Linked DNA regions of Homo sapiens: all the other regions are reported to be linked to region 3. Evidence: microRNA targets listed by miRTarBase, many of them from high-throughput screens and not tested one by one. Region 3 holds a microRNA gene; each other region holds the end of a gene's coding sequence.
The links. Region 3 holds the annotated microRNA hsa-miR-1267 (CCUGUUGAAGUGUAAUCCCCA, at 2,309-2,329, opposite strand). A microRNA usually pairs through its seed, bases 2 to 8, with sites in the 3' UTR of a target mRNA and lowers its output. Matches are read on the target gene's strand: a 7mer-m8 pairs with bases 2 to 8, a 7mer-A1 pairs with bases 2 to 7 and ends in A, and an 8mer does both.

Region 1: miRTarBase lists PIWIL1 as a target of hsa-miR-1267. Seed matches in the 3' UTR shown: 7mer-A1 at 2,962-2,968.
Region 2: the mRNA of DZIP1L is a reported target of hsa-miR-1267. Seed matches in the 3' UTR shown: 8mer at 307-314.

Annotation. Positions count from the first base shown.
Region 1 is chr12:130,371,318-130,375,543 of GRCh38, reverse strand. It overlaps PIWIL1 (piwi like RNA-mediated gene silencing 1), which reads right to left. Exons shown (of 21, transcript NM_004764.5): 20 at 4,221-4,226; 21 at 2,907-4,062. The coding sequence ends at 3,946. Among named protein-coding and RNA genes, the nearest start is that of PIWIL1, 36 kb to the right of the region's middle.
Region 2 is chr3:138,058,864-138,063,061 of GRCh38, reverse strand. DZIP1L (DAZ interacting zinc finger protein 1 like) reads left to right here. Exons shown (of 16, transcript NM_173543.3): 16 at 85-1,072. The coding sequence ends at 246. Among named protein-coding and RNA genes, the nearest start is that of CLDN18, 51 kb to the right of the region's middle.
Region 3 is chr13:107,528,909-107,533,153 of GRCh38, forward strand. MIR1267 (microRNA 1267) reads right to left here and starts at 2,340; the gene lies at 2,263-2,340. The region is part of intron 1 of NALF1 (NALCN channel auxiliary factor 1); the gene reads right to left. LOC112268110 (a long non-coding RNA gene) reads right to left here. Exons shown (of 3, transcript XR_002957493.2): 1 at 1-4,245.

The DNA of each region.
Region 1 (4,226 bases), not on the chromosome of region 3:
AGTGCACAGACCGTGCGTGCCGCCACAACACCGGGCTGCAGAGCAAACGCGGTTCAGGTGGGAGCTTGTGAAGCTCTGCCTGGATTTTTAGCAAAATAGACAGTAGTTGAGAATGCGGATGGAGGTGGTGGTGGTGGTGGTGTAAGGAGACAAGGTATGAAAAACATCAGAGAGCTGTGGAGCCAATGGCTAGACATACATGTATTGACAGCATTAAATACCTGCTTGTGATCATGAATTGAAATACAACAATTACACAGGGTTGCGTGCTTTTCTCCAGCCGTGTTTATTTGCAAAGGAACAGGCAAGTAGGCAAAAAGCTGGACTTCACCGGTGTGTTTTAGCCAAGAATTAGAAGGAAAGCACCACAGGACAATGTGAGCAAGCCAGGAGCTACCATCTGCAAGGAGGAATCGGAGCTCGGGGAGCATAAAGTGGCAAAGGGAGGGGGAGCGGCTGACATGATCTGATCAAAGTAGATTCAAAGCCGAGTGGTTTCTTTTTTGCGGGGGTCGGGGTGTCTGGAAATATCAGTGAGGAGCAAGAGGGACACCTACCTCACCCTCCAGACCTTGGCAGACGAGAAGTGTAGGAGAGACAACAGCAGCACTGTGAGTGACCCGGGAGAAAGCCGAGTTTGTTAAAGGGAGATGTAAAGAAACCGCCCCTAAGAGGCTGTTGAGAATGAGCTCCAGAGGACACAGGAAAAGTTGAGGAGCAGGGGATGGTGTCAAAAAAGAGACTGCAAAGAGCTCCTCAGAGATGAGCCTGAAATACGAGGGATCACCTGGAGCTTTGGGCTTGTGGGAAGAGCCCAGGGATGGGGCATGCCACTGGTCGTGGGGTTCCCAGGCATGAGAGTGGGAAGGCTGCGATGGACGAGGGCAGAGCGCTGGACTCCGCAGTGCAGAGTTCTAGGTGCCCACTTGAGTTCTGGCAGCACAGGGTGCTTGAAGGGCAGCTTAACTCAGAGTGTAGAGGCCATGGAGCCTCCTTTGAATGGTGGCCTAGAGAGAAGAGTCATCTTACTCCAAGTGCAGGGACTCCCTCCTGACTACTCTTGAAAATTTTACAGTTTCTCTATTGTACACAATGGATTTTTAAAATCATTGGGTAGTAATAATGAAGGTAAAGAAAATTAAACCTAGCTTTTGAAATCTTGTATCTGAATGACAATACCAATTACACAAACTTTAAGCTTTTACTTAGAAATGTACGAAATATCTGAAGACTCGTATCATAGTATCAGAATGAAACTGCTGTTGAAAATACTTTCTATTTGACTCTGAGGAGAGAGCCAGAGCCGTCACTGTGTGTAAGCAGCAGGTTCAGGAGATTACTCCAAAAAACTCCTGTAGGACTTAGGGAATGCGTGTAAAATTGCTAAATAGAATGCTTCAATGAGTGTCACATTTTTGAATTTTGAAGGAAAATGTACCCAGAAAAGAGTGGACAGACTTCCTACAGGCATGCACTTTTGGGGAACCACCCACCAAATCCCTGGGGTTCCTTCAGGAACCACCAGGTAGACTGGTCAGACGAAGCTTTGGGAAGGGACAGCCTGAGGTCAGTGTGTTTAACACTAAAGCTTTTGGACATCCCACTCAGATACGCACATCCCACGTGAAAGGAGAAATTGGGATTTCACGGAGTCTTTGCTTTGTTCTTTGTGAGTGCGGCAGTGAATTCTCTGACAGTGCTCCGTGTACTCGGTGTGGCTCAGACATCAACCTAGTCTCTGTCGCCGCATGCAACAGGTTTGTCTGATGAAAACCACAGCAGAGGCATAACCAAGACGATGTTAAGGAGACCCCTTTCAACTAGCATTTGCCAAAAGTCCCTGGCAAATCACCTGGGACTTGTTTAATAGACTGTTCACCTGGCCTCTCCCCTGAGAGTCCCGATTCCTAGGTACAGTTTGGAACCCAGTCTGTGTTATCACAAACCCAACCAGGTGATGTCTAACAGATTAGTAAATTTGGGAAGTGTTACCTAGGATGATGACAAAACCAAGCAATACCCTTTTTTGGCTTAAAATAACTTCAGCCAGTTTTCTGTCCCTTTCAACTAAGTCTTTCTTGATATAGTGGGGTCTCTGGACACCTGCAACTTTTCCACAATTATCACATTTACCAATTTTTCACGGTTCTAAAGACATTAAATTCAACTTTCACTTTGAGGCAGAGCTGAGACCTGCTAAGAATGAGCTTTTCATGACTTAACTAACTGACTAGCCACCAAAATCCATAAATAAATTAATATTTTCCAGTCGTATGATTAGACTTCCTTATATTCCTTAATGCTAGGACAACCTTAAGCAACTTCTACCATTGAAATGTTTGTCTCTGGCCTCCTTTTGAAGGTCACACTGTTCTGTGTTTCTTGTCTTCTCATGCTTAGAAATCGAACAGGTTAAGGAACCTGGGCTGCTTGCCCAGAACAATGTTAACAACAATTATTAGCTCTAAGAACTAAAAGGAAAATAAAATGGTTTTCATTCATAATATGTTAATGAGGCTAAATTCAGAATGAGACCGTGTGCCACAAAGGTAAGACAAATGACTTGAGTGATCTGCGTTAGTTTAAATTACAGTTCCAGGGACTTGTGTATTGTCATTAAAGCTTACACTCATCACATTTGTAAGCAATGTTTAAAGGTGTTCCCGGGATTTACAATAATTCATTAATTTTAAGCCTTCTCTTTGCAAACGTTCCTGAGAATTCCTATAAATATGTAGATATAAAAAACTACAATTACCAACTTCACAACACCACAGACTTCTTAGTCTGTGCTTCCTTATAAGCTGTGGATACCCGTTCTTATACTACAAATATTGGAGGTGGCAGCATTTCCTTAAAAAATTTTACTCTGACATTAGAGTTCGTAAGAGACACTAATTGAGCTTTTTTTTTTTTTTTTTTTTTTTTTTTTTTTTTTTTTTTTTTGAGACGGAGTCTCACTCTGTTGCCCAGGCTGGAGTGCAGTGGCGTGATCTCTGCTCACTGCAACCTCCGCCTCTCAGGTTCAAGTGATTCTCCTGCCTCAGCCTCCTGGCACCACATCTGGCTAATTTTGTATTTTTAGTAGAGATGGGGTTTCACCATGTTGGTCAGGCTAATTTAGCTTTTATGAATGGAATTGTATGCACTTTTAAAAATTAAATGAAAAGAAAACGCACATACTTTCAGTAAAACAAGAATTACAGTTATTCAAATAAGGTGACAATCACATCAATTTTATTTTATAACAAATAGAATCATGTCCCAGTTCCAAAACAAAATAAATAGTAATGTTAATATAGAGATTTACTCATGGCCTTTTTTGTTAAAGAGTCTTAAAATGTTTCTTTGGACAATTTAAAAATTTTCAATGTTTTTTTTACTCCCATACAACCTAGCCCCCCTGCCAAATAAAAATCAAGCATATTTTCTCCTGTATCTTGTGTATAGGTTATATAATAGTACCTTTTATCTTTAAGATATGAGCTGAAACCCCACCTATGGTTGTAGTGAGCATCCTACTTTACGCCTCTTATCTCCTTTAAATTCAAAACAGGTATCTCAAAAATAAAGTTAATATAGGTTTATAAGTAGGACTTGCTCACTCCTGAAAGTACGTTTAAGTAAATCTCCAAACACATTTCAAATACTCTCAGAGAGTCTGTTTTATACTACCAAGTATCTTATCCACATTTCTTCAAAATAAACAAAAAAATGCTCACAAAATATCTATGAGAAACAAGAAGATAAAATATAAAATCTTAATTTTTACGTATAAAATAAGGAAGCCGGTGAATAGCAATGCTAGAAATAAAATGCTAGATCTCCTAATCCCCTTCCCAAGTTTCATCCAGAAAGATAACAGTTAAAAAAAAAGTAAATAAAAGCTTAAAAAAATCCCAAAGTCATTTCAAAAAGAAAAGCGGCTGCATCGTCTTCTGCAGGTTAGAGGTAGTAAAGGCGGTTTGACAGTGACAGATTTGGCTCTCTGTGAATACTCTGGCCAACAAGAAAAGCCAGCTTGTGGGCGTACTGGCAAGGAGCAGGAACACGAATGACACCCTTTAGTGGAAGGAAAAAAAGGTTCTATTACTCTAGACTTAGCCTCTTTCAATTGCAAATCTCAGTATTAACCCTAAAAGCCTTTTAAACCACAGCTATTTCATTTTGAAAAGTGAATGTCCTTTATTTGCTAAACATCAACAAGTAGAAGCACTTACTGGCCA
Region 2 (4,198 bases), not on the chromosome of region 3:
ATTCCCATCCTGCAATGTGCTTAGCTCTCAGCCACCCTCCTCCCTTATCAAAATGCATTTTCTTCTCCCCTTTACCCCCTGCAGCTTTCTGAAGATGAGAGTGACTTGGAGATCTCCTCCTTGGAAGATCTTCCTCTGGACCTGGACCAGAGAGAGAAACCCAAGCCCTTGTCTCGCTCAAAGCTCCCAGAGAAGTTTGGCACTGGTCCACAGAGCTCTGGCCAACCCAGGGTCCCTGCCTGGTGATTCACCCCAGAAGCTAGCTGGCTAGAGGGTTAGCCTGGCTGGGGCCAGCTCAGGTCCACTTCAACAGAAGAGGCTGCTGGGCCTCTTGTCTTCACAAACAACCAAGAGATCATCCTCTTGGAGAGAAGCAGTGCAGGGAATGGATATGATCTCATCCCTCCTGACCTGTGAGGGGCCCTGCTGTAGATGGCCACAGGTGCCTGACTAGGAGCCCCTAGGTCCCCAGGCTTGAGAAAGGGTTAAAATAGAACCTCCAGGTAGTTTTCTTCCTCTACCTCCACATCCCCCCAAGACTGAAAAGAGTCACTAACTCTCTTTTCCCAAGCCTTTTATAAAACTGCAGGAACACTGTGGAGATGGTTCCTATCTGGGGTCCTTTTGGGGACATATGCCTCAGTCAGTCATTCAGTGATTGATCCAAAATTATTTACTGAGTGCCTACCTACTCTGCGCCAGGCTCTCTAGCCTCTCACTACTGAGTTAGGGTGCAGGCAGAGGCTGGGGCAGAATGTTTACAGCCAGTGCCAGCACAAGGTAGTAATCTAGTGACAGAGAACAGGGTGTTATGGGGAGCATATGAGAGGCCATCTATCCCAGCCTGGGTGATCCTGGAGAGTTTCCCAGGGTTGTGATATGTGGCAGGCCTACTCATGGGTGGGAAGGGAGGATGGCCACTTGGCTGGACCTTGTATCCCCAAAGGACCACACGTGTAATTTTTGATATTATTTCCAAAATCAGGTTTTATACATAGCCATTGTATATTTTTAGTGTGAAAAACATTAATATATTATATGCAAACATTTAAATATAGTACAATGTTTTTAACTCTGGTATGTATTTCATTATTTTTGGAGCTTTCAGGGGGTTGGGAGGGAAGGAAGCAACTGCATCTTAATTGTGTCAGTTTAGGTCTTTTGGGACATGGTTGCCAAGATGGAGTTATTGAGGAGCTGCACTTGGGAAAGAAAAGGAGGTGGAGGTAGGATCCAGTGGGGAAAGGCCGCAGACTGCAATGCACACCTGACCACTGTGAACAGAAAGAGAGAAGGAAGCTGGAGGAGCCAGGAGAACTCAGGGCATTGATGTGTTGACAAGGTCTCCACTGACCCAGTGGGGAGCTCCTGAGCAAGAACTGCCCACTTGGGAGTCCCCATTGTGCAGAAATGGCCAGGCTCTCATGCCTGCACTGCACTTGGCCATTGGCTGGGGTGGCCCAGACTGAATGAGACCTTGACTTGAAAGCTGGAGTGAACCTTGGAGTGAACCTGTCAGTCAATTTCATTTCTCCTGGTTGAGTGGCATTTTTTTTTTTTTTTCCTGAAAGGGAGACCTAGCAAAGAACCTCCATCCCTGACACAGCAAAGATCTATTTTTAACTTTTTGTTATGGAAAGTTTCAAACACATATATGAGTAAAGGGAATAGTGTGATGAACCCATGTGCTCATCACTGGGCTTCAAATATTATCAGCTCAACTCAAGGTCAATCTTGTTTCATCTATTACCACCTCCAACTCACCCAGACTTCCTTTGACCTTTGGGTGGTCCTGACACCTGGAGAGGCCTTGAAGTTCTCGTAGGAAGGTGATGGAGGAAACACACTGCAGGGAGCAAAAGGGGTCTGGTGGTGGAGTAGGGTAGCTGGGGGAGGGGGCAGGCTGGGGGTGTTGTCGTACAAAGGAAGCTGCTCAATGAGGAAGCTCAGGAGAGCTGGAGAGCTGATGCTACCAGATCAGCCCACAATCTTGATGGGATGGGAGTTGATGAGTAATTGCTCCAGGCTTCCTGTGCTTCTGTGGGGCACCTCTGAGTTTTATTCTGCACAGTTTCTCAGAGTCCCTTGTGGGATTGAGTGCTAGTTCTCACTAGTATGCAGTTACTATTATTAATGCATAGTTCATCGGCCTTCCTCTTTTCTGTTTCATTTTTCTCACTCCCTTACTTCTTTCTCTTATGAGCACCTCTGAGGTAAATTAATCTGCACCCAAGTCCTTGTTTCTAGCTCCACTTTTGGGGGAATGCAAATGTAAACAGTAAATGTGTTTGGACTTGTGTGCACACACTGGTGATGATTATCAATGAGAATGTCTCTGTTCTTGAATGTTCATCATTACGTTATATGTTTCCAAATGGGTTTTTCTATCTACTTTGGAGGGTTTGACTAACGTATTACTTTGGTGTTTCTATGCTGTGTTCACCCCTTCCCATTTTCAAATATATTTTAAAATTCTTTAGTAAGTTGTATTAGGTCTCAATAGAAACAGAACTAGTAGGATATATGGATAGATAGATACTTATGGGTATTTATTAGCCAGTTTCCCTAATAAATGACAGGGGATTTATTAAGGGAATTAGCTGATGTGATCACGGCATAGGCTGTCTGCAAACTGGAGAATGAAGGAAGCTGGTAGAGTGGCTCAGTCTAAATCCGAAAGCCGGAGAACCTGGGACTGTTGGTGCAGGTCCTGGGGCCTGAGAACCTGGAGTTCTGACATCCAAGGACAGAAGCTGGGTGTCCCAACTCCAGAGAGAAAGCCTTTCTATATAGGCTGGCAGCAGATTGGATGGTGTCCCCCACAATGGGAGAGGGCAGATTTTCCTCACTCAGTTTACTGATTCAAATGCTAATCTCTTCTGGAAGCACCTTCTCAGACCTACTCAGAAGTAATGCTTCACAGCTGTCCAGGTATCTCTTGCTCTCATTAAATTGAACTAAAATTAACCAGCACAAGATTTGCCAGAACTGTGGAACGTATGTAACAGATCATTTAAAAATTAGACAAATGATAAGGTTGATACAGAAAAATTAGAAAATACAGATAATCAAAAAGAATATAACCCACAAATTCAGTCAATTATTGTTAACATCTAGATGTACATGCACTGGTGAAAAAAAAAACTCCTTCCTAGGGTTCAACTATATTCTTCTCTAGCTTGATTTTCTCCTGGAAAACAGATTACAAATGTCTTTATATCAGTACACATGTACATGTCAGTACGTATAAATATAAGACAGTTATATATAATGGCCACCTCGTATTCCAGGCAAAGATTACAAAAGTTTTTTTAACCAGACATTTCTACTTTTTGCATTTTATAAATCATGAAGTGATTAAAAAAATGTGTATATGTGTCTTTGTGCACTTGATTAAGATTTCCTTAAAATAAATTCTTAGAAGTGAGGTTGCTGGGCCAACATAATAATGAAAGCCAGCACCATATGCCAGGCACTGGTCCAAGTTTGGTACCAATATTATGATTTAGCCTCACAGCAGCCCTTGAGATGGATGCCACTATTATAGTACATGCATTTCATGGGCTAGGAATTGAGGTACACAGCAGCTAAGAAACTTGTTTTGGGTCCTGCCACCAGTGAGTGGTGTGACTGCAATCTGACTTTGGCAGCCTGGCCCTGGCACTCTAGCTCCTTTCCCCATGTACTTTTGTTACATATTGCCAAATGCTTTCCAGAAAACTGGAGCCAATTTAGTCTACTAGTGTTTGGAGCACACAAGAAAGCTAGTTTTTGCATTCCCTTGCTACCAGGGATATCATTAATCTTTCAATGTTTTGGCCACGTGATACGTGAAAAATGAAACCTCACCTTTTAAGAAACTTGCATTTTTAAGATTTCTTCTAAAGTAAAATTATTTTTTATTTCTTTTTCATGTTGGTTGTTGCTATTTCTTCTTTTATGAGTTGCCCGTAGTTCACTTTTCTTGTTGCTGTTTTCTTTATCTCTTTATTATGAAAAATTTCAAGCATATATAAAAATAGAATTGTGTAATGACCTTGGTGTTCCTATTACTCAGTTTTAACAATTACCAACCCATAGAGAATCTTGTTTCCTGTATATCTTTCGCCAAATAATATTGTATGTTTTAATATGATACTGCATATTATTCCAAGTAATATACATGTAATATTACATATTATCCCAAATAATATCATTA
Region 3 (4,245 bases):
ACAGAAAAGGACACAATTCTTTCTATCATGAACTGTTAGGTACATGGCCTCTGCCCATGAAACGTGTTCCTCTTCCTGGCTAACCCTGCTTATTTTCCAATAAAAGTATGAATTTTGGACCTTTTCTACAGTGTTACTCAGTCTCACCTCTGTTTTCCCACGGCACCCTGACCAGAGCTTTATCCATTCATTTATGTTCTATTTCATTTGCTTAACAAGATCTTCCCACCAGAGAGAGAGAAGCCTAATGCTGGAGACTTTGTCTTAACCATGTTAGTTCTCTCAGTGCTTAGCATATGGCTGGCTGACTCTCAGCAAGTGAAGGAATGGGTGAATACCTGCATAGTGAATAATTATTCAAGAGCAGAGAAACGAGACCATAGCTCTGGTATTAACAAGTTGTATGACTTTCAGAATCACTTCACCGATCCAGGCCTTCAGATAAAAAAGATGAGTAGCAATTGGGTAGGCAGTCAGGAAAGAGAATGCCCCAGATGGCAGAAAGGGAATTTGAAAACGGAGATTTAAGCAAGCAAAGTACATTAATGAAACAGCAAATTATTTGGTAATCTTAGATGTTCCTCAAACTTTCTGCTTTTGACTTTTCATACAACCCTCAATATTCACACTATATGTCCTAGATGTGTGCAATTCAGTGGTCTAATCTGGACTTCCAGATAAAAGGCCAGCAAGGCTGACTTCCAGCTCTTCCAAGATGGCCCCGCAGGACAGTAGCCAACCATTCACCAGCTTGGCTCCCATTGCAATGTGTGTGTGATGATTGGAAGATGTGATGAATTAATTACATCTTTTTCCTTTTTTTAGATCTTCCGTAAGCTCTGACTGCCATGTGAGAGAGGAACGGGCATCACCTGAAGGAAAGGATGATGTCTCAGGACTTTCTAAGAGCAACAGAATGTTGGAAACTATCCATGGTAGGGATGCAGTTGGCTAGTTACAATGCTTGACATCCCTTCATCTAGTGGCCATGGGACTCCAAGGTATCTTTCCATAAAGAACCAAAGCCAAACTCACAATCTGCCTAAACTGCTATTCTCAGCTTTCAAGAGGAAGATGACTGTTAATACCCAAGAGTAAGAATAAGAAGCAAGGGTTCTATAGCTAACTCATGCCTTCTTTCCACAGCTCACTCTTATTCAGCAATATGGGCTCCCTTAGCTCCAACCCTCAAATCCCCACCTGGGCACCTTTACCTTGTTCTCTCTCCACCCTGGGACACTCTCTCCTGCCTATTAATGAGGCAGGCTCAGTCTTATGCTTTATAGCTCAGTCATCTACTTAAGGAGGCCTAAAAGCTCTGTCCAAAGACAAAACCTCCATCCTAGCAAGATAGTCTGCCTTTGTTTACTTCATAGCATATATCCCAATCCATAATTATTTTTATATTTGTTTCCTATTTACTACCTATATCCACCACTAGCATGGATACTTTTAAGCTACTTGATCATCTACTATATCCCCAGAGCCATGAAAACATCATACATAGTAAGTGCTCAGCAAATTACTTGCTGAATGAATGAAGTATATCCATATAGACTGAAGCAAAATCTAAGACATTCCTCTAAATTTAATATTTGTAAGATTTTTTTTAAATGACAAGATTTTTATGTATGACCTGTGATCATTTTAGTATATTCATAACATGTGGATGTATGCAGAAGATGGACTCATTCCACACAAAAATGCCATTGTACAAATACTATCTGTTGAGGCAGCCCAGCAGGTACTACATGACAAATAGGAGGCAAAAATAATATTGCAAATCACCACAGCTATAGAGAAAACATAGTATCACTTACATCATATTGATGTAAGCTGAAATCTGTCCAGAGCTGAGGCTAATCATTTGTGAAAAGCAGCTGACAATATAGAAAGAACAAGCATCTAAGTTATATATGAACTATTTTCACCATTCTCCTTATAAAGTTTTAAAAATAATATGAAAACCAGCAGGATTGCCTGAAATGTGAAAAGAACACTGACGATTTTTATTGTGATTTTTAGTGGAAACATTTTAGTTATGTAAAAACTGTTAAAGGGATAGTCTTTGTACCCTAAAAAAGAACTCTGCTGAACATTGTCATTCACATATATATATATATATACATCTGAGATATTTTATTAGGATGCATTCCTATATTAGGAATTACAGAACTAAAGAGGATGGACTTTTAACATATATTTTAACATAGCTCTCCAGAAATAAAAAGTTCTTGACCACTGATGGAGTCCGGATATTTGTCCTCATCCAAATCTCATGTTGAAATGTAATCCCCAATGCTGGAGGTGGGGATTACACTTCAACAGGAGATTTGGGAGGTATTTGGATCACGGAGGCAGATCCCTCATGAATAGCTTGGGCCATCCTCTTGGTGATGAGTGAGCTCTTCTTCTGAGTGTATGGCACCTTACCCCCAACTCTCTCTCTTTTGTTCTGGCTCTGGTCACGTGACAAAGACTGTTCCTTCTTCACCTTTCACCATGATTGTAAGCTCCTGAGGACTCCCCAGAAGCCGAGCAGATGCCAGAACCATGGGTCCTATAAAGCCTGAAGAATCATGAGCCAATTAAACCTCTTTGTTTTATAAATTATGCAATCACAGGTATTCCTTTATAGCAATGCAAGAATGGTCTAATATAATCAGTGACACTAATCATCAATATTATCTTATTAATTTTCCCAGTTTATTCAACATCAAAACCAGTACATTTTAGTTAAACTCACATTAAATGTTTGTATTTTTTTCATTTTATGAGTTGTCTGTCTGTATTTTTTTCCACTTTTATCTCAGTATGCTCATCTTCTTTTGTTGTTGTTTGACTGGAATACGTGTTGCAAGTAATTTTTCCAGCTTCTCATTTGCATCTTTTTTATGATGGTGTTAGATATGCCAAAGTTTTGTGTCATGTGAAGTATTATCTACTGATACTCCCCTTAGAATTTTTAAAAATTAATTTTATGCTTATAAACTTCTCTGCCATTTTGCAATCTTCTATTTACGTATTTGTTTTCTAGATGACTAACATGGCTTTTTCACAATCAAGTTCATAACGCAGCTGAATTTGCATACTTACCTAACTTGAAAATTTTCTCTCAAATAGTGAGTTATCCTAGAAGCATTTAATAGAAAATGCTTTGTTTCTTAACTGACTTACAAGCTACCCTTTTGTATACTAAATCCTTTGATGTGCTAGGTTCTCCTCCAAGTTTCTTGCAGACAACCAAGAACAAAATGAAAGAGAAAGAAAGTGAACAAAAGTAGAGTTTAAAAAGCTACAGCCTTTCAAGGTCAACATTTTAAAGTAAAACAGCATCTTTTTCTTTGAAATCTTATGGATTCCCACAGTGTAAAACATGCTTCTATCTAATAATCAGTATTAAAGAATCTATTAAGAAATTTCAATGATTTTTGTTTCCCTTGGCTGAGCTCTCATTATGGACTGTTTTGCTGCTTCCTTTCTCTATGAAGAAAAATCATTCATTGCTAGTGTTTTCTCAGTGTTACAATGCTTTTCCAATAAGCGTTCATTCTAGTGGTGTGTGCTTCCTCATCAACAAACATGAAATTTATCTTCTTAAATATCAAGAGTTCAGGTTATTACAAAACCTAAGGCTTACAGTGTGGTATAGTCCAAAATCATACTCCATAAACTACTGGAAAATTAATCAAATTATATTACATGAAGTTTTTATATACTCATATCTTTTGACTTGAGGTATTTCAAATATTTGAGAATCTCTTATAGACCTCATTTCAACTTTAATTTTTCTGTCTCATGTGTTTGGTCCATTTATGTGATTTGCCTGGGACATTAATGAAATTCTCAAGAATGTTAATTTTCAGAAAATATAAATCCCTGAAAAGTTAGCAATTTAGAGATTATTCAGGAATATAATTTTGTGCTAGTTTCTAACGTAATATTGCAATTATATTAACTGAAGACAAAATATTGCCACCTAGACTTCAAAAAACATCTTAAAGGTAGTTGCAGAACTGTTAAGAAAACAACCTAAAAACAGTAGCCATTAACATATTAAAAATGATATAAAAATTAAGAATACATGCTAAGCTGGAAATTTAAAACATCATTTAGAAACCAGACACTTTGACTGGAGGCAGCTGTTGCCTCTCTTTTTGACTTAAACTTTTATTTAACTCATTCTACTAAAATTAATATCCCCACGAAAAGAGAGTTATAACCATAACTTTTAATGAGGCTCAG